Linked DNA regions of Homo sapiens: all the other regions are linked to region 1. Evidence: fine-mapped expression QTL. A gene starts in region 1. Each other region holds a variant in brackets. All regions are shown on one strand. Distances are from middle to middle.

The links. PIP is the estimated chance that this variant, and not a neighbour inherited with it, causes the effect.
Region 2: its variant is fine-mapped to the expression of CARHSP1 in whole blood (TOPMed, PIP above 0.99).
Region 3: its variant is fine-mapped to the expression of CARHSP1 in whole blood (INTERVAL, PIP 0.94).
Region 4: its variant is fine-mapped to the expression of CARHSP1 in whole blood (GTEx, PIP above 0.99).
Region 5: its variant is fine-mapped to the expression of CARHSP1 in gastroesophageal junction (GTEx, PIP 0.97). The same link has a PIP of 0.9 or more in esophagus muscle.
Region 6: its variant is fine-mapped to the expression of CARHSP1 in whole blood (INTERVAL, PIP above 0.99).
Region 7: its variant is fine-mapped to the expression of CARHSP1 in whole blood (TOPMed, PIP above 0.99).

The regions. Positions count from the first base shown.
Region 1 is chr16:8,867,330-8,871,394 of GRCh38, forward strand. It overlaps CARHSP1 (calcium regulated heat stable protein 1), which reads right to left and starts at 1,677. Exons shown (of 4, transcript NM_014316.4): 1 at 1,637-1,677. CARHSP1-DT (CARHSP1 divergent transcript) reads left to right here and starts at 1,952. Exons shown (of 2, transcript NR_186721.1): 1 at 1,952-1,999; 2 at 2,284-2,710. RefSeq lists an enhancer at 840-899 and a silencer at 1,040-1,999.
Region 2 is chr16:8,844,089-8,848,153 of GRCh38, forward strand. It overlaps PMM2 (phosphomannomutase 2), which reads left to right. Exons shown (of 8, transcript NM_000303.3): 8 at 3,636-4,065. The coding sequence ends at 3,737. Among named protein-coding and RNA genes, the nearest start is that of CARHSP1, 23 kb to the right of the region's middle. RefSeq lists an enhancer at 2,402-2,993. The variant G/T (reference allele first, on the strand shown) is at 2,477.
Region 3 is chr16:8,653,630-8,657,694 of GRCh38, forward strand. It overlaps a transcript of METTL22 not described here. Among named protein-coding and RNA genes, the nearest start is that of ABAT, 19 kb to the right of the region's middle. The variant C/A (reference allele first, on the strand shown) is at 1,670.
Region 4 is chr16:8,833,815-8,837,879 of GRCh38, forward strand. The region is part of intron 7 of PMM2 (phosphomannomutase 2); the gene reads left to right. Among named protein-coding and RNA genes, the nearest start is that of CARHSP1, 33 kb to the right of the region's middle. RefSeq lists enhancers at 2,103-2,637, 2,638-3,170. The variant A/C (reference allele first, on the strand shown) is at 2,248.
Region 5 is chr16:8,820,509-8,824,573 of GRCh38, forward strand. The region is part of intron 7 of PMM2 (phosphomannomutase 2); the gene reads left to right. Among named protein-coding and RNA genes, the nearest start is that of PMM2, 25 kb to the left of the region's middle. The variant G/C (reference allele first, on the strand shown) is at 2,213.
Region 6 is chr16:8,814,593-8,818,657 of GRCh38, forward strand. All of the region lies in intron 7 of PMM2 (phosphomannomutase 2), which reads left to right. Among named protein-coding and RNA genes, the nearest start is that of PMM2, 19 kb to the left of the region's middle. RefSeq lists a silencer at 1-80. The variant G/C (reference allele first, on the strand shown) is at 2,305.
Region 7 is chr16:8,795,957-8,800,021 of GRCh38, forward strand. It overlaps TMEM186 (transmembrane protein 186), which reads right to left and starts at 1,683. Exons shown (of 2, transcript NM_015421.4): 1 at 1,656-1,683; 2 at 1-634. The coding sequence starts at 1,658. PMM2 (phosphomannomutase 2) reads left to right here and starts at 1,883. Exons shown (of 8, transcript NM_000303.3): 1 at 1,883-1,992. The coding sequence starts at 1,927. RefSeq lists enhancers at 1,277-1,971, 1,610-1,659, 1,972-2,666 and a silencer at 3,522-3,571. The variant A/G (reference allele first, on the strand shown) is at 2,341.

The DNA of each region.
Region 1 (4,065 bases):
CATCTGTCAAAGGGGACAGGAGCGGTGCTGCGTCGCAGGGCTCGGACGCTGTGCAGATGGTGCCGCGAAAATGCCAAGCGCACGGCGGGCTCAGTCCACAATAGTGCGGCTGATGGTGGAAGTGTCAGGCACGGGCCCATCTGAAATCACCTTCCCTCCCATTCCTGCCCCTGCTGATGGAACACAAACCAAATGCGCTGGCTTTGCCACTCGGTGGAACAAAGACCGATCCCCTACCTAGGGGACCCACCGTCAACCACCCTCAACCCCACCCCATGGCCCCACGCCAGGCCTAGCTCAGCTCATTGAAAACATCTACTCCCAGCCGGGCTCTGCGCCTCTTTCTTGCCCTGAAGGGACCAGCATCGAGAACTCACGGTCATCACCGAGGCCACCCAGGGAGTGCAGAGGGCGGTGGGGTCTCCAAGGAGGACCCCGAGCCCAGAGGAGGGCCAAAGGCCCGAAGGGAGGGAGAACAGAGGCAGAGAGAGGCTGGAGAAGGTAGTGGCGGAAGATAACAGGAAGCCCTGCTGAGAAGTTGGGGACTTAGACGACAATGGGACTTCGGTGGACGATTTTCAGCGTGGGGTAGATCTAAGCGGATTGTTTTTCTAAGTTCCCTCTGGCTTCAGAGTGGCAGCAAATGACAGGGGCAAGCAAGACTGGGCACAGAGAGACTGAGAAATATCAAAACAGCAAGTTAAAAAACAGTAGCTTACGTGTCTCCCGGCACGGGGCTAGCTGCCTCCTTTTACTCTCACACACCCTCTCATGCCAGAAGAAGTCAGAGCCCAGTCTGCAGATGGGGAAACTGAGGCTCCGAGAGGCCTCCTATTTGGCAGAGATTTCCCCACCTATTAAGACCCAAGGCCCTGCCTGGAGCGGGACGTCTCCGCCTCCCCCAGCACACACATCCACTCCAACCCCAGAAAACCATAGGGCCGGAGGCTTCCTTTTTAAAAATCAAAAAAGAACATTTCACTTCCGGCCTGCAAACCTGAACCGCCAGCGCAGCCTGCGGAAAGGGGGCCTGTGGGCGCGGGTGAAGTTTTTCTCCAGCGCCTAAGGCACCCCCACCCCCATCCGGGCGCAAACACCCGGGCCCAGCGCGCCCGGCGGCTCCTCCTCCCCCAGATGCGGCTAATCGCGCGGCGCCAGGACGGCTCCCCACCTCCCCCGCCGGGCCTGGCCGCCGTCCCAACCTCGAGCCACAGCTGGCGCGGCCAGGCCCGGCGGGGGGTGGCTCTGCTTCCCGCGTGCGACGCCCCCCGCGCCTCGCCCCACCGCCCGGCGAGTCCCCCGTCCAGGGCTCCCGCCCAAAGGCAAAAGCAGCGGGGAGGGCGGGAAGAGCTTCCCCTGCACGCAGAGAACAGGTGGCCAGGCGGGAAGTACTACCCGACGTCCGCCTAGAATCCTTGCCGCTGTTGCCACACCCACCCCTTCCCCTGGGGAGGAGCAACCCGCGTTCCCCAAACAGGCCCCGAGAAACCCAGCCCGGAGCCCTCCTCTGCCGAGCTAGAAGACCCTGCAGGATGGGGGACGATGGAGGCAGAGGAGGCCGAGGCCCCACCCCTGCGGCTCCCGGGGCCGCGGGCCAGGGGCGCCTATCCTGGGGTCCCCGAGAAGAGCTCCCTACCCTGCAATCCGTTCTGCTCCGCCAGCCGCTTCGCTCCGACTGAGAGCGCGGAGCTGGGGAGGGGGCGTGGCCCGAGGGGGGGTGGGGCGCCGATCCCCGCCCCCAGGAGCTCCCGGCCAATGGGGCTGCGGGAGGGAGCCCGGGACGGTGGGGGCGGGCGGGGCGGGAGTGGCCCGGACAGGACCTTTGTGTCCGCGCCTTAGACTGGCGGGAGAGCGGAACGCAGAGCGCGGGACGTAGGGGCCGGGGCGGGGCGGGGCGGGGCGGAGCTGGGCTGCACCCACCAGCAGAAAACGCCCCTGCAAAGTGGGGGAACTGTGTCCCTGCGCCCGTGCAGTTCCTTCCCCTCGCCACGCGCGCCAGGTGCGGCTCCCACCTGCCTTTGGCTCTAAAATCTGTATAATCCCGGAGGGTGTCACTTTTAGCAGAAAGGAAATAAAGGAATGAAAAGAGAGACGGAAGAAAACAAGCAAAAAACAGAAAGGAGGAAAAGGGAAAGAAAAAATACACACGCACACACACACCAGAAAAACAGGGTTTTGTTTTCTCGTTGGGGATTTTGATTTTGTTCTCTTCTCTTGTTTCATTTCTAGCCTTCCTTGAGTCCTCTGTTTTTGGAGGTAAAAAATGTTACCTCTGTTTTGCAGGAGAGGAAACTGAGGCACAGAGAGGCGACCAGCCCATGGGCACGGCCAGTCGAGAGCAGCCCCTGAAGGCGAGCCTAGATCCCGGGACCAGGGTCAGCTTGGTATTTGAGGGGCGCGGGGAAGGAGAGAGGTCCCCGGAGCTCGCCCGGGACAACAGGGCCCCCGGAGGCGGCGGTGAGGACTGTGCCTGCCTCACTCTGCAGCCCCTATTGGGGCCACTGGGGAAAAGGCCCAGCAGCGAAACCAACTAGTCCAAGCCAGGCAAGGAACCGTCCTAGACGGCTGGTGGGAACAACCGCGCAGCTGCTGTGGAAAAAGCCCGGCGGTTCCTCAAACCACGAGCCCTGGAGTCTCCATAAAACCCATCAACTCCACTCCTAGGTGTCTGCGCGCCCAAGAGAAATAAAAATGTTTGTCCACACAAAAATTTACTTGAGGCCGGGTGCGGTGGCTCACGCCTGTAATTCCAGCTCTTTGGGAGGCCGAGGCAGGAGGATCACTTGAGCTCAGGAGTTGGAGACCAGCCTGGCCAACATGGCGAAACCCCGTGTCTATGAAAAATACAAAAATTTGCCGGGCTTGGTGGCGGGTGCCTGTAATCCCAGTTACTTGGGAGACTGAGGCAGGAGAATCACTTGAACCCGGGAGGTGGAGGTTGCAGTGAGCCAGGATCATGCCACTGCACTCCAGCCTGGGCGACAGCGAGTCTCCGTCTCGGGGGGGAAAAAAAGTTAAAAATAAATAAATAGGCCGGGCGCGGTGGCTCACGCCTGTAATCCCAGCACTTTGGGAGGCCGAGGCGGGCGGATCACGAGGTCAGGAGAACGAGACCACGGGGAAACCCCGTCTCTATTAAAAATATTAAAAATTAGCCGGGCGCGGTGGCGGGCCCCTGTAGTCCCAGCTACTCGGGAGGCTGAGGCAGGAGAATGGCGTGAACCCGGGAGGCGGAGCTTGCAATGAGCCGAGATAGTGCCACTGCACTCCAGCCTGCCTGGGCGACAGAGCAAGACTCCATCTCAAAAATAAATAAATAGATAAATAATGATTTACTTGTTGGGCTGGGCGTGGTGGCTCACGCCTGTAATCCCAGCACTTTGGGAGACCGAGACAGGAGGATCTCTTAAGCCCAGGAGTTTATGACCAGCCTGGACAACATAGTAAGACCCCTTCTTTACCAAAAAAAAAAAAGTTTTAATTAGCCAGGAGTAGTAGCACCCACCTGTAGTCCCAGCTACTGGGGAGGCTGAGGTGGGAGGATCCCTTGAGCCCAGGAGATCGAGGCTGCTGTGATCCGTGACTGCACTGCTGCACTCCAGCCTGGGTGACAGAGTAAGATTTATAGCAGTATTACTCATAGTAGCCAAAAGGGAGAAACAGCTCAGATGTCCATCAAGTGATGAAAGGATAAACAAAATGTTGTGTATCTATACAGTAGACAACTATTCACTCATCAACAGGAATGAAATCTTGATGCAAGCTACAACATAGAGGAACCTTGAAAATATGCTAAGAGAAAGAAGCCACACAAAGGCCGCACTTTGTGTGATTCCATCTGTATGAAATGTTCTGAATGGGCAAATCTCTAGAAACAGGAAGTAGATTAAGGGTTGCCAGAGGCTGGGGGTGGGGGTGCGGGCTAGACGGTTGATACTTAAAAGGTACAGGGGTTTCTTTTTGAGATGATGAAAATGTGCTGAAAGTGATGGTGGCGATAGTTGCACAAGTCCGTGGATATACTAAAAATCATTGCATTGTGTGCTTTCAATGGGTGAACTGTAT
Region 2 (4,065 bases), 23 kb before region 1:
GCAGGATGGAAAAATTGAAAGTGCCGTTTTCTGGCTATTTGGAACTACTGTCGAGTTTGTATTGGGGTCAAGCGGCATTGCAGAAGAAAATAAGGCATTTATTTAGGTTTTAGGTCAGGTATGAGTTGAAGAGGTTTTAAGTTCTTGAGAACACAGGCTAAGGGAGAAGAAGGAGGAATGTAGGAAGGTTGCCCATAGTGAAGGAGGCAAGCCCAGAGAAAAGAGAGCGTAGAGACATGGAGGGAAGGGGTTTGGGGGTTCTTACCCTCCAGAAAAGCGGGAAAGGGGTTGGGGCATGGAAATAAGGGATTGGGGCACAGAGATACGAGTTTGGGGTACTTGCCTCTCCCCCAGAAAAGCGGGACTTGCCGCTAAGGGTGAAGGAGAAGGGGTTGGGGGGTTCTTGCCCCTGCCCCAGAAAATCAGAGAAGGGGTAGAGACACGGAAAGAAGGGGTTGGGGTCCTTGCCCCTTCCTCAGAAAAGCGGGACTTGCCGCTAAGGGTTATGGACCAAGGCAGGTGTCCCTGCGTGGTCTGACACCTCTGAAACGTGGGTGAATGATCAGAGGCGTCCTTGCAATGATTAAACACCAAGGGAAGGCTGCCTTCCCAGTCCGTGACCGGCGCCGGTTTTTTGGGTCCACAGATAAAACGTCTCCTTTGTCTCTACCAGAAAATGAAAGGAATTGAAATTAAGAGAAGGGAGAGATTGAAGTGTGGCGCCTAGATTGAAAGGAGAAAGACGGTGAGGGATAGGGAGGTTGGAGAAGAGAGTAAAAAGAGGCTGCTTATTGGATTTGAAATTGGTGAGATGTTTCTTGGGCTGGTGGGTCTGAGGACCTGAGGTCGTAGGTGGATCTTTCTCATGGAGCAAAGAGCAGGAGGATAGGGGATTGATCTCCCAAGGGAGGTCTCCCGATCTGAGTCACGGCACCAAATTTCATGCGCGTCCATGTGAAGAGACCACCAAACAGGCTTTGTGTGAGCAACATGGCTGTTTATTTCACCTGGGTGCAGGCGGGCTGAGTCCGAAAAGAGAGTCGGCAAAGGGTGGTGGATTATCATTAGTTCTTATGGGTTTTGGGATAGGCGGTGAAGTTAAGAGCAATGTTTTGCGGGCAGGGGTGGATCTCACAAAGTACATCCTCAAGAGTGGGGAGAATTTCAAAGAACCTTCTTAAGGGTGGGGGAGATTACAAAGTACATTGATCAGTTCGGGTGGGGCAGAAACAAATCACAATGGTGGAATGTCATCAGTTAAGGCTATTTTTACTTCTTTTGTGGATCTTTAGTTACTTCAGGCCATCTGGATGTACACGTGTAAGTCATAGGGGATGCGATGGCTTGGCTTGGGCTCAGAGGCCTGACAGTAGGTGTTCTAGAAAGGTGTGTTGTGTTAATGTGTGAATACTGACTCCCCTCCTCAGTCACTGAGGCGGGGAGGGTGTTTGGCTCTTTTGAGGCATGTGAGAGTTGGTTGTGCCTTTGGTTTTTTGTTTGTTTTTTTTTCTTTTGAGTCTCGCTCTGTTGCCCAGGCTGAAGTACAGTGGTCTGTTCTTGGCTCACTGCAATCTCCGCCTCCCAGGTTCAAGTGATTCTCCTGCCAAGCAGCTGGGATTACAGGTGCGCACCACCACACCCAGCTAGGTTGTGCCTTTGTTAGGTTCTCTGTGACTTTTACCCACTGTGCCATTCCTGAAAGAAATCTTTTTTTTTTTTTTTTTAATTAGAAGAATTACTGGAACTAGCTTGGCACTGTTGGACACAGTCTTTGTCTCAGCTACTCGAGAGGCTGAGGCAGGAGGTTCGCTCGAGCCCAGCCTGGGCAACATAGCAAGACCCTATGTCCGAAGGAAAAAAAAGGCAAAATCAGAATTACCAGAACTGATTTCACATGTGTAGGTAGCAGATGGTGGCCATGCAATTCAGGTCTGTCTGAAGGCCCCCAGGCCTGGTACAAAACTGTGTAAGGCCAGTACAAGGCCCTGACAGGTTCCCAAGTGGCTGGACTGGAAGAGATGCCAAGTTCATGGCCTCCTAACCTGACTCCACCCAGCACTCCCTGGGCCCAGCGACGTTCCCTCCTGAAGCCTGAAATTCACCTCCACCTGAGGAGGCCATCTGCCTGGGGATAGGTTCTTGCAAAAATGAAAACACTCATTTCCAGAGGCAATTAATTCTTTTAAAGGATGTCAGATTTTTGGTACAAAATCATGGTTTCCACGTTGGCTTCATGCTCGGTGCTTTATGAGAAAAATCCCTTTTTTCTACGGTTGTGTTCATTGTATTGTAAAGCAATCGTAGATTATTTTAAGGTTTTGAGTTAGAGTGATTATCCAATTTTATGAGGGAAATAAAGGAATTCCATGAGAAAAACGGGGGCTTTCCTGCAGGGCTCGGGGTTGCGGGAGCGGCAGATAACCTGATTCATTAACGTGAGCCCAGTGGGATTGGTGGGGGTGATGGGGACACAGAT[G/T]GGAGCACTCAACTCAGGCACAGGACCCCAGCAGAACATGCCCAGGTCCTCCTAGACATGGGCCCTTGCAGACTTTCTGAGGCCTCGGTTTCGTCATCTTACCAAGGTGTGACCCCAACCATCATCTCCTGAACTTCTGGCCACAGAGCTGTGAGCAAGCTTCCATCATGACCCCATTTTGGAGATGGGGAGTTGGCGCAGCCACACTGCTGCTCAGTGGTAGAACCAGCATCTGACCCAGGCCACCTGTTCCAGAGACCCTGCTTTTAGCCAGCAGCTCAGACCCCAGTCATGTGGGGCCATTTATTTATTTATTTAAGATAGAGTCTCCCTTTGTCGCCCAGGCTGGAGTGCAGTGGTGCGATCTCGGCTTACTGCAACTTCCACCTCCCGAGTTCAAGCAATTCTCCTGCCTCAGCCTCCCGAGCAGCTGGGATTTCAGACGTGCGCCACCATGCCCAGCTAATTTTTGTATTTTAAGTAGAAATGGAGTTTTGCTGTGTTAGCCAGGTTGGTCTCAAATTCCTGACCTCAAGTGATCCACCCTTCTCAGCCTCCCAAAGTGCTGGGATTACAGGCATGAGCCACCATGCCCGGCCCACGTGGGGCTGTTTAAATTAAAATCAAATTAACTGAGTTCCTCCATTGCATTGGCCACGTTTCAAGTGTGCAGAGTGACACATGGCCAGTGGCTGCCATCACCGCTGATGTCGCCACGTCCCTCATCACAGGAATATCCCTGGCAGCCCTGCTCCCGGCCCTCTGCCCTCCTGACGCTCCCTTGTGACTTGTTAGAAAAGCGTAGGTACAGCTAAAAAAAAAAAAAAAACTGATGGCTGTGAGAATACTGTCACTCGCTGATGCCTTCTGTGTAGAAAAATAAGCCTTAGACAGATCTTCGCAAGAACATCGTGATGGCTCTCATAGGCATAATTACGTGTTCCAAGCCAAATTGCAGTTCAAGAGAAGGTTATAAATCTCTTCTTAATAACAATTGTACTCACGTTCCTCTCCTGGAAACTAAGAGGAAGGTAGCTGAAGAAACTCTCCCTGCCCAGTTAAATCTTGTTTTTTGGGTACTTTTGGACTCCAGGGTCACATCAGCAATGGCCCGGGACAGACGAGGGGGAGCCTTCATCTGTACTTCGTGTCTTTCCAGGGTGGCAATGACCATGAGATCTTCACAGACCCCAGAACCATGGGCTACTCCGTGACAGCGCCTGAGGACACGCGCAGGATCTGTGAACTGCTGTTCTCCTAACGTGGGAGCGGGAGGGGCGGGGTCCCGGCTGACAAGCCAGCATAGGGCATTCGGTGGCCAGAGCCGAGGGTCCTCCCACACGTGCTCACCCACCCGCAGCCTAGGCAGGCTCTGCATGCTATGCCAGGCATGTGCAGTCTGGACTTCCACCTCCAGTGCCAGAAACTTCCAGAAGGAAGGAGAAAACTCTTGTCAAGAATGGCCCAGAGGAATGCCTCGCACAAAAGGTCTTCCCCACCCACCCCCAGCCCCCTAGTCTAATACCCACCCTGATACGTGCAATCATGTAGTTTTGGCGGAAATTTCCCCATCATTCTAGGATGATACA
Region 3 (4,065 bases), 210 kb before region 1:
GTGGATCTTGAATTGGTTTCCCATGGGAAGGATTTGGAGATTTTAAGTGGCTGAGTGGTAATGATTAAAATCCAACTTTATTCTAAAGCTACCATACATAGTAAAGCCTTAATTAACTAAGACTCAGTTAGTTAAACCTGCTTCCCCATCATTTCCAAGGCTCAAGCTACTGAAACGTTTCAGTAGGACCAGGACTTAGAGACAGGAACACTGGGACCATCTCCTATATCTAAACACCTGGGTAGTGAGAACCCAGGAAGAAGGATGATATCAGGGAAGAATTTTGTGGAAAGCCTGACTTCAGAACCAAGCTCAATGTGGGAAGCTGAAATTGCAGTGACCCATGAGTACACCACTGCACTCCAGACTGGGTGTCAGAGCAAGACCCCATCTCAAAAAAAGAAAAAACAGGCTCAAGCAAAATGGGAGATCTCAGAGGATCGAGATGGTGATAGCCAACTGTCCTAAACATTTTAGATACATTAGCTCAGTAAATATCCCTCCACTCACGTGAGGCCCCACTTCATAGATGGGTAAACTAAGGAGGGAGTAGGCAAGGGGGCCAGGTAACTCTCCCAAGGTCACATAAGTTGTGAGGGATAGAGCCAGGCTTTGAACCTGAGAAGTTTGGCTTTATAGTCTAAGAATTTATCCCCCAGGCTCTTCACCACTCCTGGTAATTTGCTCATCATCACATAACTTATAAATGGCAGCTCTAAGGTATGTGTTTATAGGTGGAAAGTTACATACCACATGGTTAACCTTGATTAACCCCAGGGCATGGAATTGGGGGAATGGAATTGATGAGACTTTGCCCTTTATGTTATATACATGTATTTTGTTTTTACAAACATGGGTTATTTTTGTGTCTTTTTTACTAAAAATAAAGTTAAAAGAAATTAAGTACATGTGCACACATGCACGCATGCATACACACACAGCCAAAATGCTACTCTCTAACAAGAGCTGTATTTGAAAACAGATAGATCAAGCCAAGCTTTTGGGAAATAAAATTTATTTTAGCCCAAAGGTTCTAGAAAGACTCAGAGAAAAGTTCAGAGGGCAAATCATCCCTTGGGTGGGTCTGGGGCTACAAGACCCTGGGCTTGGTGCTCCTCCAACTGAGCCTCAGAATGCATAGAATGAGACTATGCCAGGCTCATCTGAACTCCATGTTGTCTGGTTCCCCAGTGGGAAATTTGTCATGTCCAGACCCAGGGGAGTGTGGCCGTGATCTGTACTAAAGGCTGAAGTTCCACCATAAGTTTTATCCATGTTTCTAGCCCATTACATTTTTACAGAGAACGCTAATGGACATAGCAGCAAACTGAAGGTGGACATAAATCCAGCCACCATGTGGGAAGGGAAAAAAGGGAGTAACTCAAACCTGCTGGGCCTCTTCCCAATAGTTAGAAGACTCTAAAATAAGCCAAGCCCTGTGTGGGGCATTGGGGAAAGGAACTGTATTATCTATTTGCTGCATGACAAAATACCCCAAAACTTAGAAGCTTAAGACAACAAACATTTATTATCTTACAGTACCTGTGGGTCATAAATCTGGGCTTAGTTTAACTGGGTGCCTCTGTCTTAAGACCTCTGCTAAGGCTACAAGGAGTTCAGCTGTGGTCTCATCTGAAGGTTCAACTAAGAGTGGATCCACATTGAGGCT[C/A]CCTCTTGTGGTTGGTGGCAGGATTCAGTTCCTCACCTGCTATGGGTCTAAGGGCCTCAGTTCCTCACTGGCTGCTGACCACAGACTTCTCTCATTTCTCTGCCATGTGGGCCTCTCTAGGGGGCCTCTGATAAAGCCAGGACATGACAGCAGCTTTCTCAGAGCAAGCATACAAGAATAGAGAGAGTTTACTGGGAGGTAACCTAATCTGAGAAGTGACACTCCGTCACTTTTGTCACATTCAGTTCTTCAGAAGTGAGTCACTAAGTCCAGCCCACACTCAAGGGGAGGGGATTACACAGAGTGGGAATACCCAAAGGTGGGATCACTGGGGACCATCTCAGAGGCTGCCCACAAGAGAGATGCAAAGGACACATCCTTGCCCTGAAGAGGCACTGAATCTGGAAGGAAGTGGGCAAGCCCGCCAGCATTGTGATGCAGAGATCGTGTTCTCATACCCACAGCTGATGTCCATTGAGCACCAACTTCCATCCAGGTGCTCTTCTAAACAAAGCCGTTCAATCTATTATCCACCTAAATGTGCAAACTAAGATTTATTTCTGAGGCATTTGGGGGATTCAGGAAGAGGAGAGGGCTGAGGGTGATGCCTAGCTTTCTGGCTTGGAGGACTGTGTCTTCTGACAAGACATAGTTCTTGAAGACTCACCACCATGCCCTCCACCAAGGTAAATTCTCCTGATGACCACATCTTTGCTCTAACACAGTGTTCTCCAAAGTATGGCGAGTTAGGATACCAGTGGTATGTGGCAGGTTTTTGTTGTTGTTGTTTTAGAGACAGGTCTCGCCATGTTGCCCACTGGAGTGCAGTGGCTATTCACAGGCATGAGCATAGTGCACCACGGCCTCGAACTGCTTGGGCTCAAACAGTCTTTCTACCTCAGCCTCCCAAGGAGCTAGGACTACAGGTGTGCACCACTGTTCCTGGCGCAGAGAGGTTTTAAGAGAAAAGCATTTTGAAGTTTATCCTATTGACATGTATGTAGCAGGATGCCACTTCCAGGGATTAGTCCTTTCCTCCACCCCCACTTCCTAAATGATTTTATTTGTACCCTGAGGGCCTTTTCCCCACTTCCCCCACAGACCTGCGTGAGTAGACCTCAGGCACCAACTGCACAACTAACTATTGGAGAAGCAAAGATTAAGCTCCAGCACAGCCACTAGGCAAAACCTGGGACACAGGGATTCTAATGTGAACTTGCAGAGTAAGATTCTCTGCTTCTGAGAAAACAGCTGTGTGGGCTGTGAAGATGGGAGAGGAGGTTTGAGACTCCAGTTACCTCAGCAGGAGAGCAGCCAGTCCCTGTCACTCCACCTTCATCTGCAGTGAGTGATGTTCCAGCAGTGCTGGCCTGGGCTGGGCTGTGCCCTGCGGCTCCAATGCCCTCCTGACAACCCAGGAAGCTGTCTTACTCCATTTTGTGCTGCTATAACAGAACACCACAGACTGGGTAACGTAATTAACAGAAATGTATTGGCTCACAGTTCTGAGGCTGGGAGGTCCAAGAGCTAAAGGCCAGCATCTGGCAAGGGCCTTCTTGCTGCATGATAGCACAGCAGAAGGCGCCACATGGTAGAACAGTAAAGAGAGGATGAGAACGAGAGAGAAGTAAACATGGGTCAAACTCGTCCTTTTATAAGGAACCCACTCCCGAGAAGACAAACCCACTCTGGTGATAACAGGATTAATCCACAGAGTCCTCTTGCCCTAATCACCTCTTAAAAGTCCCACCTCTTGATACTGTTACAATAGGAATACACTTCATCATGAGTTGTTTGGGAGGGAACAGACATCTAAACCACAGCTGAGCCCTTCTTACAGCAAGATAAGAGAGGAAGATGCCACTTCAGGGAGGATCGATGTCATTACAAGACCTCACAAAACCTGTTTGAAGTCACCCTCCAAGCTAGTCCAGTTGTTGAACCACACCATCATGCCCTGTTTTGTGTATTCTGGGAGAAAAATGTATCTTGCATTTGAAAACCAGGGACATGAAGGATATTATTCTCGGTTGAGGCTAAGTTAATAATTTGTGCGTAGTTAAATACAATATTAAGTAATAATGTAAGTGGGAAGCAGGAATAGCAAATGTCACAAAGATGGTGATCTTGGGGGCTGAAGTTTGCAAAACACCAACAATAGCTTTGCCTGTGGTTTCAGCCTTTGTCCTGTCCCTCTTTAACTAAAGGCAGGAAGACTTGTCCCCCATAAAACCAGGTTCCTTTTCGTCTACTATATGGAGTTCAAAACAATTTCAGTCAGTCCTGAGAAACTGAAGACAAAGGATGTTTTCCACCTTTTTGAAACTATAGTGGGTTGAATGGTGGCCCTAAACAAGCTATGTCCACGTTCTAAACCCCAGAACCTATGAATGGGA
Region 4 (4,065 bases), 34 kb before region 1:
AGAGAGTGCCTAAGGAGATTCAGCATAGTCCTGCCAGCAAAGATTATTTATTTACCTCAAGAGTTTAGAGTGGCAGTTTGGGGATAGCACCAGGAGATATCAGCTGTGATGGCTTGGAGAAACAGTGTAAACCGGCAGTGTAAACAAGAGCAGGGCATGTATGAGTAGTTGAGAATGGCGAATAGGAATATGACTAGACAGGAGATAGTAGGGATGACAAGTTTTGGGGGGCACAGTCTAAGTTGGTCTGGTGTCTGGAATGAGACTGGGGCCTAATAAAAAGGAGCGTCTATACAGGAGCTTACATGGGCTGTACCTTGTAGCATTCTGAGGACAGGCCTGAATTCTGAGAAGGGAAAGTGGTAAAAGTATTGTCCAGTCCTTTTTAAGTTGGAGGCTGAGCTTGGTGAGGTGTGTTTTTAAAAGACCTTTAGTCCATTCTACCTTTCCTGAAGATTGAGGACTGTAAGGGATATGAAGGTTCCACTGAATACTAAGAGCCTGAGAAACTGCTTGGGTGATTTGACTAGTAAAGGCTGGTCCGTTATCAGACTGTATAGAGGTGGGAAGGCTAAACTGAGGAATTATGTCTGACAGAAGGGAAGAAATGACTGCGGTGGCCTTCTCAGACCCTGTAGGAAAGGCCTCTACTTATCTAGTGAAAGTGTCTACTTAGAGTAAGAGGTATTTTAGTTACCTGACTCGGGGCATGTTGAGTGAAGCTAATTTGCCAGTCCTGGGTGGGGGCAAATCTTCAAGCTTGATGTGTAGGGAAGGGAGGGGGCCTGAATAATCCCTGAGGAGTAGTAGAATAGCAGATGGAACACTGAGAAGTTATTTCCTTGAGGATAGATTTCCACGATGGAAAGGAAATGAGACGTTCTAAGAGGCGGGCTAGTGGCTTGTACTATAGCATAGCCTGCCTTTGCTGCTATGTGGCGATTAGGCCTGGTGGAACCGCCATCAATAAATCAAGCGTGATCAGGGTGAGGAACAGGAAAGAAGGAAATATGGGGAAATGGGGTGAATATCAGGTGGATCAGAGAGATACAGTCATGGGGGTCAGGTGTGGTATCAGGAATAATGTGGGAGGCCAGATTGAGGTCCGGGCCAGGAACAATGGTAATTGTGGGACTTAACAAAGAGTGAGTACAGCTGAAGGAGCCGGGGAGCAGAAAGTATATGCATCAGGTATGAGGAAGAAAGTAGATTTTGGAAGTTACGAGAAATGTAGAGAGTGAGTTGAGCATAGTTTGTGATTTTTACGGCCTCTAAAAGTATTAAAGCAGCGGCAGCCGCTGCACGCAGACATGAGGGCTAGGCTAAAACAGTAAGGTCAAGTTGTTTGGACAGAAAGGCTACAGGGTGTGGTCCTGGCTGTTGTGTAAGAATTCTGACCGCACTAACCATGCCTAGGAAGGAAGGGAGTTGTTGTTTTGTAAGGGATTGAGGTTTGGGAGATTAATCAGACACGATCAACAGGGAGAGCACGTGTGTTTTTATGAGAATTATGCCGAGATAGGTAACAGATGGGGATGAAATTTGGGCTTGACTGAAGTAGTGGGGGCTGTCTGTGAAGCCTTGTGGCCGTACAGCCCAGGTAATTTGCTGAGCCTGATGGGTGTCAGGGTCATCTAACTGAAAGCAAAGAGACGCTGGGATGAAGGGTGCAAAGGAATAGTAAAGAAAGCATGTTTGAGATCCAGAACAGAATAATGGGTAGTAGATGGAGGTATTGAGGACAGGAGAGTATATGGGTTTGGCACCACGGGGTGGATAGGCAAAACAATTTGGTTGATAACGCGCAGATTCTGAAGTAACCTGTAAGCCTTGTCTGGTTTTAGGACAGGTAAAATGGGGGAATTGTAAGGAGAGTTTATAGGTTTTAAAAGGCCATGCTGTAGCAGGCGAGTGATAACAGGCTTTAATCCTTTTAAAGCGTGCCATGGGATGGGACATTGAGTGGGGTAAGGGTGATTAGGTTTTAATGAGATGGTAAGGGGTGCATGATTGGTTGCCAAGGAGGGAGTAGAGGTATCTTATACTTGTGGGTTAAGGTTGGGGGATACAAGAGGAGGACACAAAGGAGGCTTTGGATTGGGAAGAAGGGCGGCAATGAGATGTAGCTGTAGTTCAGGAATACTCAGGGAAGCAGATAATTTAAAGTGTCTCGGCCTAATAAGGGAACTGGGCAGGTGGGGATAACTGAAAAGGAGTGCTTAAAAGAGTAATGTCTAAATTGGCACC[A/C]GAGTTGGGGAGTTTTAAGAGGTTTAGAAGCCTGGCCGTCAATACCCACAACAGTTACGGAGGCAAGGGAAACAGGCCCTTGAAAAGAAGGTAATGTGGAGTGGGTAGCCTCCGTATTGATTAAGAAGGGGATGGACTTACCCTCCACTGTGAGAGTTACCCGATGCTCGGCGTCCGTGATGGTTTATGGGGCTTCCGAGGGGATTGGGCAGTGTCAGTCTTCAGCTGCTAAGCCGAGATCTGGGAAGGAGTCAGAGAGCCTTGGGCCAGAGTTCCAGGGGCTCTGGGGAGTGGCTGCCAGGTGAGTTGAACAGTCTGATTTTCATGGGGTCCCGCACAGATGGGACGCGGCTTAGGAGGAATCCCGGGCTGTGGGCATTCCTTGGCCCAGTGGCCAGATTTCCAGCACGTGTAGCAAGCTCCTGGGGGAGGAGGTTCTGGAGGAACGCCTGGCTGCTGCGGTTCAGGCGTTTGGAAGTTCTTGTGTGCTGGAGATGTGGCTGGGGTTTGTCTCACAGTGGAGGCAAGGAATTGCCACTTTTTTCTATTACTGTCCACCTTGAAGGTGAGGTTAGTTAAGTCCTGTTATGGGGTTTGAGGGCCAGATTCTAATTTTTGGAGTTTTATTTAATGTCGGGAGCAGATTGGGTAATAAAATGTATATTGAGAATAAGACGGCCTTTTGACCTTTTAGGGTCTAGGGCTGTAAAGCGTGTCAGGGTTGCTGCCAAACGAGCCATGAACTGGGCTGGATTTTTATATTTGATGAAAAAGAACCTAAACGCTATCTGATTTGGGATAAAGAAAAAGGAGCATTAACTTTGACTATGCCTTTAGCTCCAGCCACCTTTTCAAGAGTAAATTGCTGGGCAGGTGGGGGAGGGCCAGTCACAGAATGAACTGTAAGCTGGTCCAGGTGTGAGGAGGGGAGGTGATAAAAGGATTATAGGGTGGAGGAGCGGAGGCTGAGGAAGAATTGGAACCTAGCTCAGCCTGGCGAGGAGGAGAGGTCAGATGGGTCTGTAGAAAAGGAATATTAGAAAGACTCAGCGACGCTTGGGGTTGCGACTGAGGGGACAGGTGGGAGGGAAAGAAGGAAGATTTGGGACGAGTTGCACTGGGCACAGAGACTAGGAAGGGACTGATGTGTAAAAGAATGCCTGGACATCAGGCACCTCAGACCGTTTGCCCATTTTACGACAAGAATTATTTAGATCTTGTAGGATGGAAAAACTGAAAGTGCCGTTTTCTGGCTATTTGGAACTACTGTCGAGTTTGTATTGGGGTCAAGTGGAATTGCAGAAGAAAATAAGGCATTTATTTAGGTTTTAGGTCAGGTGTGAGTTGAAGAGGTTTTAAGTTCTTAAGAACACAGGCTAAGGGAGAAGAAAGGAATGGAAGGTGGAAGCTTGCCCATAGTGAAGGAGGTAAGCCCAGAGAAAAGAGTAGAGACACGGAGAAGGGGTGGGGGGTTCTTGCCCTCCAGAAAAGCAGAGAAGGGGTTGGGGCACGGAAATAAGGGATTGGGGCACAGAGATATAAGAGATTGGGGCGCAGAAATAAGGGATCGGGGCGCAGAGATACATGGGGTTGGGGTACTTACCCCTCCCCTAGAAAAGCAGAGAAGGGGTAGAGACACGGAGAGAAGGGGTTGGTGTACTTGCCTCTCCGCCAGAAAAGTGGGACTTGCCGCTAAGGGTGAAGGACCAAGGCAGGCGTCCCTGCATGGTCTGACACCTTTGAAACGTGGGTAAATAATCAGGCGTCCCTGCAGTGATTAAACACCAAGGGAAGGCTGCCTTCCCAGTCTCTGACCGG
Region 5 (4,065 bases), 47 kb before region 1:
ACGCCTGGCTAATTTTTGTATTTTTAGTAGAGACGGGGTTTCACCATCTTGGCCAGGCTGGTCTTGAACTCCTAACCTCAAGTGATCCGCCCACCTTGGCCTCCCAAAGTGCTGGAATTACAGGCGTGAGCCACCACTCCCGACCACAGTTGCTCTTCTGAAGGAGTCATATGAGAATGAAGTGAAGGCATCTGAGGAAAGTGGGTGACGCAGGGCCTGACTCAGGAAAGGCAGCTGGGACATGCATCTTTGGCCTGGTCCACAACCAGCGTCTGCTTCCTTCACTTTCTAAGAAAGTTATTCAAAGGCTCATCTGTTATTGAGATTTTCCTAAGAGATTGGAGCCTGCCAAGTCCCTCAGTGAAGGGCCATCCTTGTGAGTGAGCACCTTCCTACACACCTTCCAACAGTTCATTAGAGCGTGAATTAGTGAACCATGTCCTCCTGTCCTCAGGTTCCAAGTTAGGCTTTGGATGGCAGTTGGCCTTTGCGATCCTGGACTTAACCATGCCTAGCATCTGTAGCTCTTTCAGGACTCAAGGCTAAGGAGGGCACAGAATGGATTCTGTGGATAGATCTGTCTTACTACTTATTGCTGGGACCACATGATTTGAGACCCAGGTCTTCTTGTGTGGCTGGTGGCAGACTTAGCTTCTTAACATGTGAGTCCCTCACTCCTGGAGGGACCCTGAGTGAATTGCCGCTCCCACAGTCAGCTTCCAGAACTGACTGGCAGAAATTGATGAGAGGTTCTCAGCCTGGTGGAGATGTCCCACCCGCTCCTGTGTGGGAGGCCAGGAAGCAGGGTGTCATGCATGGGAGCCACGAGCTTCAGATGTTCCTGCTAGCCCACCTTCCTCCTGAGTGCCAGACTCCACAGAGTCCATGGCCCTGGGTGTTGGTCCCAGGAATAGGACTGTGGCTAACAACCAGCCCACAGAGTGAGCATCCCTGCCTGTGTCTGTGCTGAAGCTCTTTCATTCAGGGAGACACTGGCTTCAAACCCCTGGAGTGGGGCTGGCCTTCCAGGGAGCCCCTTGATGTCCGCAGAATCGGCATCTCCTGTGGGCATTCCAGGCCCAGATCCGTCACAGAGCTGTCTCCTCTGCCCTTGAAGGCCGGAGAGGTGAAATGAGAGGGCTGTGCTCAGAGCCGTCAACAGACCCAAGGGTCACTCGCCCTAGGGCCACTAGCCCCTTGGCCAGCTCAGGTTCCACCCTCGCCCCCAAGCCAAGGGGTGTTTTTTCCTAGATTCTAAGTCACTGGTGCTCAGCCCTGGATATATATTGGAATCACCTGATCACTTTCAAAACATCATGACCCTGGGCTTGGGCCATGCCCCAAACAAGCATTTTTAAGGCATCCCCAGGGACTCTAGCCAGGGAGAGCCACTACTGCTCTACGCCATTTCAGAGCAGGCTCTTGTCTCATTGGCCCTGTAACTGCCCAACAGGTTCTCCTTGCCCACTGCCTAGACAAGAGCCGATTTATCAAGACAGGAGAGTTGCAGTAGACAAAGGGTAATTCACGCAGAGCTGGCTGTACAGGAGACTGGAGTTTTATTATTCCTCAAATCAGCCTCTCCAAGAATTTGGGGATCAGAGTTTTTAAGGATAACTTGCTGGGTAGGGGCTTGGGAAGTGGAGATTGCTGATTGGTCGGCTTGGAGATGAAATCATAGGGGGTGGAAGTGAGTTTTTCTTGCTATCTTCTGTTCCTGGTGGGATCAAAGAGCTGGTTGAGCCAGATTACCTGTCTGTGTGGCATCAGATACTGCATCAGAACACAGGGTCTACAAAATATCTCAGGCACAATCTTAGGTTTTATGACAGTGATATTATTTTCAGGAGCAATTTGGGGAGGTTCAGACTCTTGTAGCTAATTTGTTAGTCCTACAAAGGCAGACTGGTCCCCAGGCAAGAAGGGGGTTTATTTCAGGGAAAGGGCTGTTACCGGCATTGTTTCAAAGTTAAACTATAAACTGAATTCCTCCCAAGGTTAGTTTGGTCTGCATCCAGGAATGAACAAGGACATCTTGGAAGTTAGAAGCAAGATGGAGTCATTTAGGTCACCATCATAATTTTCTCAGTTAAAATTTTTGCAAAGACAGTTTCAGTTCCTCCTGTTGGGTTTTATAATACCTTATTCCTAATACTTCATACTGTGGGATATGAAGATGGGAAAAGAGTGATAACCGCTCTAGCTTCTTTCT[G/C]CTGACAGGGAGCGTAGTCAGGGTAGGTGTTGACCCAAAGGTAGGAGGAGTGAAACCACTTTGCAGCTGTCTGCTTCTACTCAGGGGTTCCTGGTTAGGGTTTGAAGGCCTGCATGACAAAGGCATTAGTATTCTCATCTATAGTTTTAACAAATGAGTCCTAGGATAAAGAGTGAAAGTCCTGGCTTCAGAAGCTTTTGTAGAATTGATCCTAAGCTCTGAGGGACCCAGGTAAATAGCTCCAAGAACCAATCAGACATGGGGTTACTAGCAGAGAGAGATTTGGGTCAGAGGTTGTTAGACAGACAGATTGGGGTAGACAGGAAAGAGGAAATTTAAATATACTCATCCTTATCTTTTTAGTCAGTTTTCCTAGTCCTAAGACTAGATCAGTTCAGTTAAACAGCTGTTTCCATTATCAAGAGATGGCACTGGAGATGGGCTAGGCATCTTTAGTTATAGAGGAGGAAGGCAGTGGCAATTTGACATGTTTTTGTCATCTGTATTACAAAGAATAAGCTTCAGCTTGCAGGGCCTCAGGAAAAAGGTAGTAGCAATTTAATTGAGTCCAAGTCAGAAAAGTGGGAAAAAAAAATTGAAAGCATTAGTTTGGGAATTGTAGCCCACAGAGAATTCAGGATTTAGTCCAAATTGCAGGAAATAATAAAAACTCAAGAACAAAGGACAAGACTAGAATCTAACAGCAGGGTGTATCATAGTTTTTTGAAACACTTTTTTCCCTCTCCCATCCTTATTTTTATTAAAGACAAACCGTAGTAGGACAAGTTTACTTGCAAAATAAGTCATAGTCTTATTAAGCTTGGCCTGATTATTTGTATAAAGTAAAGCAAGAATAATTGTTTGCCAGATAGGCTGTTTTTAAAATTGGCTTTGCTGAAACTTTGTTCCATAAGAAATCTCAGGTTAGACTTTTTTAAAGCCTCGAGCCCAGCCATGGATTTATCTACTATACCTGCAAAGATAAACCTGTATGAGTTGGGTGAAATTTTTTCTTCTCATGGTCCTAAGATAATTTGGGGCTCCTGGGCCTGTCAAAAAGTGACGGTCTTTATTTACCACAGTTCAGGAACCCCGTACAGGGACTGTGTAGACAAGGTATGAGGCCAGCTTTTCCAAGGGACTTCTATTGGCTCTGTTAGTCAACTTTGTTCCTTAAAGCAGTCTGTTTATATTTGAAAGTATGTCGTACCAGTCAAAGCCTTGGTAAAGTAACCGGCATCTCTAATTGTATCCTATTACAAAAGAAAACAGATTGTTACTGCCCTTGCACAAATAATTATACTGCCATAAGTTGAGAATACTCACAAATAGTTTCCAAATTCTGGAGAAATCAGAGAGAAGGCAATATGCTCTAAATTTTGCTCACAGAAGTATACTTTAACTCAATTGTTAAAGTTGTAAATAGCTCAAAAGAAAAATAGTTTTCTGGACTCTGAAAAACAAAAGGATTAACAATGTTTAACACATCAGCTCTCCATGAGGATCCTAGAAGTTTTTTTTCCTCCATTCCAATGGCACAATTTGTAAAGTTATCAGAGACCTGCATTCAAGAGTACCCATTAGAGTACTATATCTGATTATAAACTGCCTTTTGAAAAGGATAAAACCAAGACAGCAACTGCCTGTGGGTAACAAAAGTCTCAGGACAGCCGTAGTTAAAGATGCAGTCAACAAGGAAATCTGGTCATCTCTGTGACACACAGTTTAACAGAACAGTTATAATTATTACTCATAACATATACTGAGACGTATCAGAATTATAGGAGTCTTACACAATTTTGTAACACATACTAATAACATAGTTATACGACTATAAACCCAAAGAAAGTTAA
Region 6 (4,065 bases), 53 kb before region 1:
AATGATAAAACTGAAACCCATAAAGGGTAAGGGATTTGCCGAAGGTCACACGGCTAATGACAGAGCTGGTGGCACCAGAAGAAGTCTACCTGTTCTTTGTATGTTTTAAATAGCTTTATTGAGGTATAATTGATCAGCAAAAGCTGTACATATTTAACGCTCACAGTTTCGTGAGTTTAATCATTGTGCCTCTTTGGTTTTGGGGGCGGTTTGGGATTTTTTTGTTGCTATTGTTATAAGAACACTTAACATGAGATATTCCCTCTTAACAAGTTTCTAAGTGTACAATACAGTATTGTTAACTATAGGCACTTCTGTTTGTCCAACAGATCTGTAGAACTTACACATCTTACATAACTGAGACATTACACCCATTGAACAACAACTCTCCATCTCCCTCCTCCACCGCCCCGTCCCTGGCAACCACCGTTCTTTTCTCTGCTTATATGACTTTAGCACCTTTAGATATCTGATACAAGGGGAATCATGCAGTATTCATCCTTCTGTAAGGGGCTTATTCACTCAGTATGTCTTCTCAGTTTACTCATGCTGGCACAAATGGCAAGTTTCCTTATTTTTTAAGGCGGAATAATGTTTCATGGTATGAATACACTATATTTTCTTTCTTTTTTTTTTTTTTTTCTTGAGGCAGAATCTCGCTCTGTCGCCCAGGCTAGAGTGCAGTGGCACCATCTTGGCTCACTGCAACCTCCACCTCCCTGGTTCCCTGGTTCAAGTGATTCTCGTGCCTCAGCCTCCCGATTAGTGGCTGGGATTACAGGAGCCTGCCACCACGCCCGGCTAATTTTTGTATTTTTAGTAGAGACAGGGTTTTGCCACATTGGCCAGGCTGGTCTCGAACTCCTGGCCTCAAGAGATTCACCTGCCTTGGCCTCCTAAATTGATGGGATTACAGGCGTGAGCCAGCGTGCCCGGTCAGAATATACTCCATTTTCTTGATCCATTCTTCTGTCAGTAGACACATGAGTTGTTTCCGTATCTTGGCCATTATGAATAATGCTTCAGTGAACACGGGGGTACAGATACCTCTCTGAGATCCTGACTTCGTCCTTTTGGCCATCTACCCATGGATTAAAGACTTAAACACAGGACCTGAAACTGTAAAACTCCTAGAAAAAAAACATAGGGAAAAAGCAATGATATTTTAGATGTGACACCAAAAGCACAGGCAACAAAAGCAAAACAAACAAGTTGGACAACGTCAAACTAAAAAGTGTCTGCACAGCAAGGGAAATAATCAGAATGAAAAAGCAACCTACAGAGGGGAAGAGAATATTTGCAAACCATATATCTGATAAAAGGGCTAGTATCCAAAATGTATAAGAAACTCCAACAACTCAATGGCAAAAAAAAAAACAATTTAAAACATGAGCAAAGGACTTGAATAGACAGTTCTCCAAAGAAGACATGCAGATGGCCAGTGGGTATATAAAAAAAGGCTCAACATCAGTGTTCAGGGAAATGCAAATCAAAACTACAATGAGATAAACCTCACACCTGCCAGGATGGCCATTTTATTTTATTTTATTTTGAGACGGAGTTTTGCTCTGTCACCCAGGCTGGAGTGCAGTGATGCGATCTTGGCTCACTGCAACCACTGCCTCCTGAGTTCAAGCTATTCTTATACCTCAGCCTCCCGAGTAGCTGGGATTACAGGCGCCCGCCACCATGCCCAGCTAATTTTGTATTTTTAGTAGAAATGGGGTTTCACCATGTTGGCCAGCCTGGTCTCGAACTCATGACCTGAAGTGATCCACCCACCTTGACCTCCCAAAGTGCTAGGCTTATAGGCGTGAGCCACCACACTGGGCCAGGATGGCTAATTTTGTTTTTTTTAATGTTGGTGGCTGGGTGCGGTGGCTCACACCTATAATCCCAGCACTTTGGGAGGCCAAGGTGGGCGGATCACCTGAGGTCAGGAGTTCCGAGACCAGCCTGACCAACATGGAGAAACCCCGTCTCTACTAAAAATACAAAATTAGCTGGGCATGGTGGTGCACACCTGTCATCCCAGCTACTTGGGAGGCTGAGGCAGGAGAATTGCTTGAACCCGGGAGGTGGAGGTTGCAGTGAGCTGAGATTGTGCCATTGTACTCCAGCCTGGGCAACAAGAGCGAAACTCGGTCTCAAAAAGATAAAATAAATGTTGGCGAGGGTGTGGAGAAATTAGAACCCTTGTACACTGTTGTGGGAAATGTTAAATGTCATAGCTATGATGGAAAACTACATAGTGGTTCCTCAAATTAAAAATAGAACTGCCATATGATCCAGCAGTTCCACTTA[G/C]AGATATATATCCAAAATAATTGAAATCAGGATCACAAAGAGATACCTGCTGTTTAAAATAAAATAAAATAAAGACAGGGTCTTGCTGTGTTGCCCAGGCTGTACTCCAACTCCTGAGTTCAAGCAATTGTCCCGCTTCAGCCTCCCAAGTAGCTGGAATTAGAGGCGTGCACTACCACAGCTGGTGATACCTGCTGTTTAAATGAGTGTGCTTTCCACTACGATAAGCTCTCTCTCAGTGGGGTAGAAAGATCTTGTTCTAAATCCCAGATGAACTGGGTACTTTGAAGGAGGTGTAGCATTCAGGTTTGTTCTTAATGACAGTTACATATGGTTTTATAACCACATCCTTTTGTTGAAATGCTTTTGATGCAGAAATGCTTTCAGTGCAGGCTTTGAAAAAGATCACCGTCTGACTTCATGTCTTTAAAAAAATTAAGCTAATGAAATGACACCTAGGATCTAAGGGATGCCCGGAAGCTTCCTCAGTCCTTCTCTAGCTTGGTGCCATTTCTTGTAGACAGAGAGGAGAGCTATTAAGACACACGACAGCAGATTGTTCTGTAATGATGACATTCTTGCTTCATGTAAATAGCCATTTAGAAGCCTCAGTTGGGACTTTGCAGAATGGAATGCAGTTCTTGGATAATCAGAAAATGACTTATTTTGGGAATTCTTCATTTGGGAATTAGAGGGTTTTCTATTCTGTTTAACCATTGCATTACCATGCCTGGATTCTATTTTTAAAATCTTACCTACGTTTTAAAAAATGAGTATTATTTAATGGAAGCTTTCCCCCAATTGTAAATTAACCTGTGCATTCATTATAGAAAATTAGAGAAAGTACGAAGAAGAAAAAGAAAGTCACCTATAATCATCCAACAATGTCCCAGCCTTTCTATGTATATGATCCCAAAAGTGGGATCCTTACATGTTGTTTTAGTTTTAGTTTTCTTTCTCTTAACGTATTTTATTTTTATCATATTAGTGAATATTCTTTGCAAAGAAGATTTTTTTTTTTTTTTGAGACAGAGTCTTGCTCTGTCACCCAGGCTGGAGTGCAGTGGCGTGATCTCGGCTCACTGTAAGCTCCACCTCCCGGGTTCACACCATTCTCCTGCCTCATCCTCCCGAGTAGCTTGGACTATAGGTGCCCACCACCACGCCCGGCTAATTTTTTGTATTTTTAGTAGAGATGGGGTTCACCATGTTAGCCAGGATGGTCATGATCTCCTGACCTCGTGATCCGTCCGCCTCGGCCTCCCAAAGTGCTGGGATTACAGGCGTGAGCCACTGCGCCTGGCGCAAAGAAGATTTTTAATGGCTGTATAATATTCTCTCATTAGGCATCAGTTACTCACCTCCCTTGCAGAGGCACGTTGGGTGGTTTAAGGGGTTTTGCTATCATAACTAATGCTGTGGTGAACATTCTTGCACGATTCTTTGCCCCCATCCCTGATCCTTTTCGTCAGCGGTTTTCTAGAAATGGAAATTAGCAGTCCAGCCATGTAAACCTTCAAACAACCTATCAGTTCTTGAAACTTCAGGTGCAGAGCAATCCAAATACTAGCCTTACACTTTGCATTTTCAGTGATAGACATTTAGAAAGCTGGGGTTTTTTCCTTTCCTAATGAAGTTTGATGTTTTTGCCGGCGTCCAGGGAAGTGATCCTGAGCTGAGGCTGTCAGTAAAAAAGCCATTTCTCAGCCAGGCCCTGAGGCTTAGCAGCCTCTTCCAGCAGCACAGCCTCCAGGAGGCAGA
Region 7 (4,065 bases), 71 kb before region 1:
TGAGCATCTGATGTACCCCAAACACCTGTGTGAAACGCTCTCTGTCCAGGATGCGTCCATAGCGCAGGGTGACGTAGAAGGTCTGTTTCCCACTGTACCGCTGGATACGCACAAACATCTCCTGAGGCCGGTCCTTGGTTTCTGTCAGGGGAATCACATCTGCCATGGGACAGTATGTGTCCTGCCGCCAGCCCCAGAAGTTCAGATGGGCCACCCGCAGCATGGTGCCAGACTCATTCAGATACAGGATACCAACCAGTCTCCGTAAGAAATAGCTCATCCAGCACAGCATGGTCAGGGCAAAGCCCGATATCCCACTCATGAGGCACACGGTGTTGAGAGTGAGGAGGCCCTGGGAGTACAAGTAATAGCCTGGTGGCAAAGCTACCACTGTCAGGGCAGTCTGTGCCAACTTCAGTCGTGACAGGAACCCGAAGGTTCTGATGGCATCAAAACGGTAAAACATCCAGAATTTCTCAGTCTCTGCGTTTGGTAGTTTCTCCTTCGAGATGGGTGAACTGCTGCCCACCCACCTCTTAGGATCCTCCTGCCCACTGCAGCACCACAGCCCATGGAGAGGCCTTTCCCACACAGCTTTTCCCCGAAACCTACGCACAGCTCGGAGAAGGGCAGCCTGAAAGGGAGACAGTAGACCATTTCTCTCATGGAACTCAACCACATTAATCACACGGTGAACATCTGCAAAGCACCATACTCTAAGGCTTCTGCCAATCCTGCAAGGTAACCGTTATTGCCAGACGAGGGAAGGGTAAAGCCAGATGCTATCTCATGTGGGCATCACAACAGCTATCTAAGATAGTTATCACTATTTCCACTTTACCACTAGGGAAACTAAGCCCAGAGAGGGTAAGATATTTACCAAAGATCACACAGTCAGTGAGTGCAGCAGAGTCCTCCTTCCACCAGGCAATTCCAAATAAATACAGGAAAGGAGGTGCGGCCGTCATTAATTCAAAACATATCCAGGGAGGACAAACTCTGGGCTGGACAATGTATCCACAAGGGGGTGTGAACATTTCCCCAAGCAGGAAACTAAATAATCAGTGTCTTAGTGGGGAACTCGAGCAACAAATCTGTGAGATATTTATTCCAATAAACTTTCTAATTCTCTGTTTGATTCATATGCTATCTTGGGTGCTGGAGGGAACTGCTGCTTTCTCTTAGCCTAGTCTGGGGAAGGGGAAACAGCGGAGAAGGAGAAGGAGCGAGGCAGGGAGGCCCCAACACGTAGCACAAGGGTATTACTAGGTGGGTAGTGAAGCAGTAAAAGCTCTTATTCCAATTCTGGCTCCAACAGTAATTTGTGAGCAAATTACTCCACACCCCTGAGATTCGGTTTCTTCGCCTTTCAAAATGGGGACTCAGAACACAGTGAACCAGAGGATGGTTTCAGAGTCCTCAACTTAGTACCTAATGCACTGTGAGAGCTCGGCGAGTTTTAGCTACTACTACTGTGCGCATGTGACCCAAGGAGGGCAAGAGAAAGCCCGGGAAAAGCGAACTGTAACACACGCCAGAGCTTCCTCCCACGGATCCTCGGAGTCCGAAACCCGAGCGTCGGGCCTGCCCGCCCCAGCCCTGACCCCGACCCCAAAGAGCATCACCCCCTCAAGGCTCGCCACCCGCCTCCTTACCATGGCCCCACCACCTGCTGCCGGAAGTAAATCCCACCGGCCCCCGGAACCCCTAAGAGCGCATGCTCGAATGTACAAGGCGGGCGTGATCTGCGTTGCACCCTGGGAGTTGCGGTCCAGGAATCGTGGCTGCCGCTACTCCCAGGCGTTATGGGAACGGAGTCCCCTCCTCTTCCCGACGTGCCCTGCGACTCAGCGGCCGAACCCGGAAGTTCCGGGCCGAGTTCCTCGTGCCAACGTGTCTTGTAAGGTGCGGCTAGAAACTGGGGACATGGCAGCGCCTGGCCCAGCGCTCTGCCTCTTCGACGTGGATGGGACCCTCACCGCCCCGCGGCAGGTAAGTGGCGGCCGGCGGGCTGCTGGCAGCCGACGCGGAGCCCGTGCTGTTCCCAGTTGGGGCTATCGACCACCCAGGGTAGGCGCCAAGGGGTGGCTAAGGACCGCCTACGTCCTCACGGCGCTGAACCCTATTCTGGGTGCACTGGAGGAATGAGAGGGAGGCCCTAACCAGCTCTTGAAGAGCTCTGGTGCTTGGAAAGATGAGACGGGGCTGAAGAACTCTTAAGAGCAGGAAACTTGTGCTAGGTTGGAAAATGTAATCTGGACTCACCGCTAGTGCTCGGGACTGATAGACCAGGATTTCAACCCAAGATCAGGCCCCCTTATCAGCTATGTGTCGGCCCCA[A/G]TCCTGTAACCAATGGGCTGTGCCGTGAGTCATGATATTAAAAACAGGTTTCCAGGTCAAACCGACCTAGTGGAGTCTCATCTTCACCTCTTGACATCTGTGTGACCTTCAGCGAGTCATTAACCTCTCTGAGCCTCAACATCTACAGCTTTAAATGGGGATGTTACCTGTTCCATATGGTGTCTGTGAGGATCAAATGAGATTGTGTAAGTTCTTGAAAGTATGTTGGACACAACACACTAGGCCTCAGTAAATAGTAGCCACCTCCACCACACCCATCTCCAGCCCCTGCAATGGACTAGGGAGATGGAGGAGCCCTAGGTTATTACAGGCTGCCCGCTGAGAGCCTCTTTGGGCCCTTGGAAACTTGCTTTCCACTTTCAGATTTTGCTGCTACAGGCACAGATAAGTTTCAGTTACGATCAGCCTTGAGGTGAGGCTCTCCTGGCCCCTTTTCAGAAATTGGCCACTGAACACTGGCCATTTCAACTTGAGACTGGACCCCAATGGTCTCACTATCCTCAGCTTCTACCCTCACCCCTCATAGTTTTCGCTTGGTGGTAACAATGGTGTGCTCCAGAAGTCCAGGTCAAATGCGTGTGACCTTAGACGTATCATTTTGCCCTTCTCAGCCACAGGTTTGATTTACCTAGTGATGACGCTCAACTCCCAAGTTCTTCAAAGGCTTTTTCTGATTCTGAAATTCAGTGATCACACACTTGGGTTTGTTAAAAGCCCATAGTGGTCTAAAACTCCGGTCCCCAATTCATTTTTTGTAAAGGGCCATATAGCAAATACTTCTCTGTCTTTGCTGACTATGTGGTCTATAGTAACCACTCAACTTTAGTGCAAAACCAGCCATAAACCCTATATAAATAAGAGTGGCTGTGTACCAATAAAATTTTATTTATTTATTACAAAAACAAACAGCTGCCCAATGTGGTCTGTGGGCCATAGTGGTCTAGGGTTTACATTGCCACCCTTTTTCATATCACTGAACCCTCTCAACCTTCCTCCATCTTTCTTCCCAGGTAGGATAGTTGTTATTACCGTTTTAAACATAAGGAAACACACTCAGTGAAGAACTAACCTCCTCAGTTTCACACAGCCAACCTGGTACAAGTCTCTGGGCCTCAGGATATTGGTTCCTGTCAAGTTTGCCATTTCCTATCTGTGCTAAGGTGGAAGCTGTTCTAGTCACTGGGTATGCCATTCAGGAAAGTGCTTCTGATTTTCTGATTTTCACAGTTCTGACTCTTTTTTTTTTTTTAAGACAGAGTCTCACTCTGTCACCAGACTGGAGTGTAGTGGCCCAATCTCAGTTCACTGCAACCTCCACCTCCCAGGTTCAAGCAATTCTCCTGCCTCAGGCAACCAAGTAGCTGGTGCTACAGGCAGGCACCACCACGCCTGGCTAATTTTTGTATTTTTAGTAGAGATGGGGTTTCACTGTGTTGGCCAGGATGGTCTCTATCTCTGGACCTCGTGATCCACCCGCCTCGGCCTCCCAAAGTGCTGGGATTACAGGCGTGAGCCACCGTGTTCTGACTTTTAAAGGCCACTCCTCCAATTCTAGATTCTGTCTAATAGGTCCAGATTCCACTGTGAGAGTAGAAAAGATTGCACTCTATTACAAACCCTTCTGTACAATTTTAATCACATTCATGTATTACTCTAAAAAAGTTTTTTAAAGAAAAATCATTGAACTCCAAGTGTTTATATACT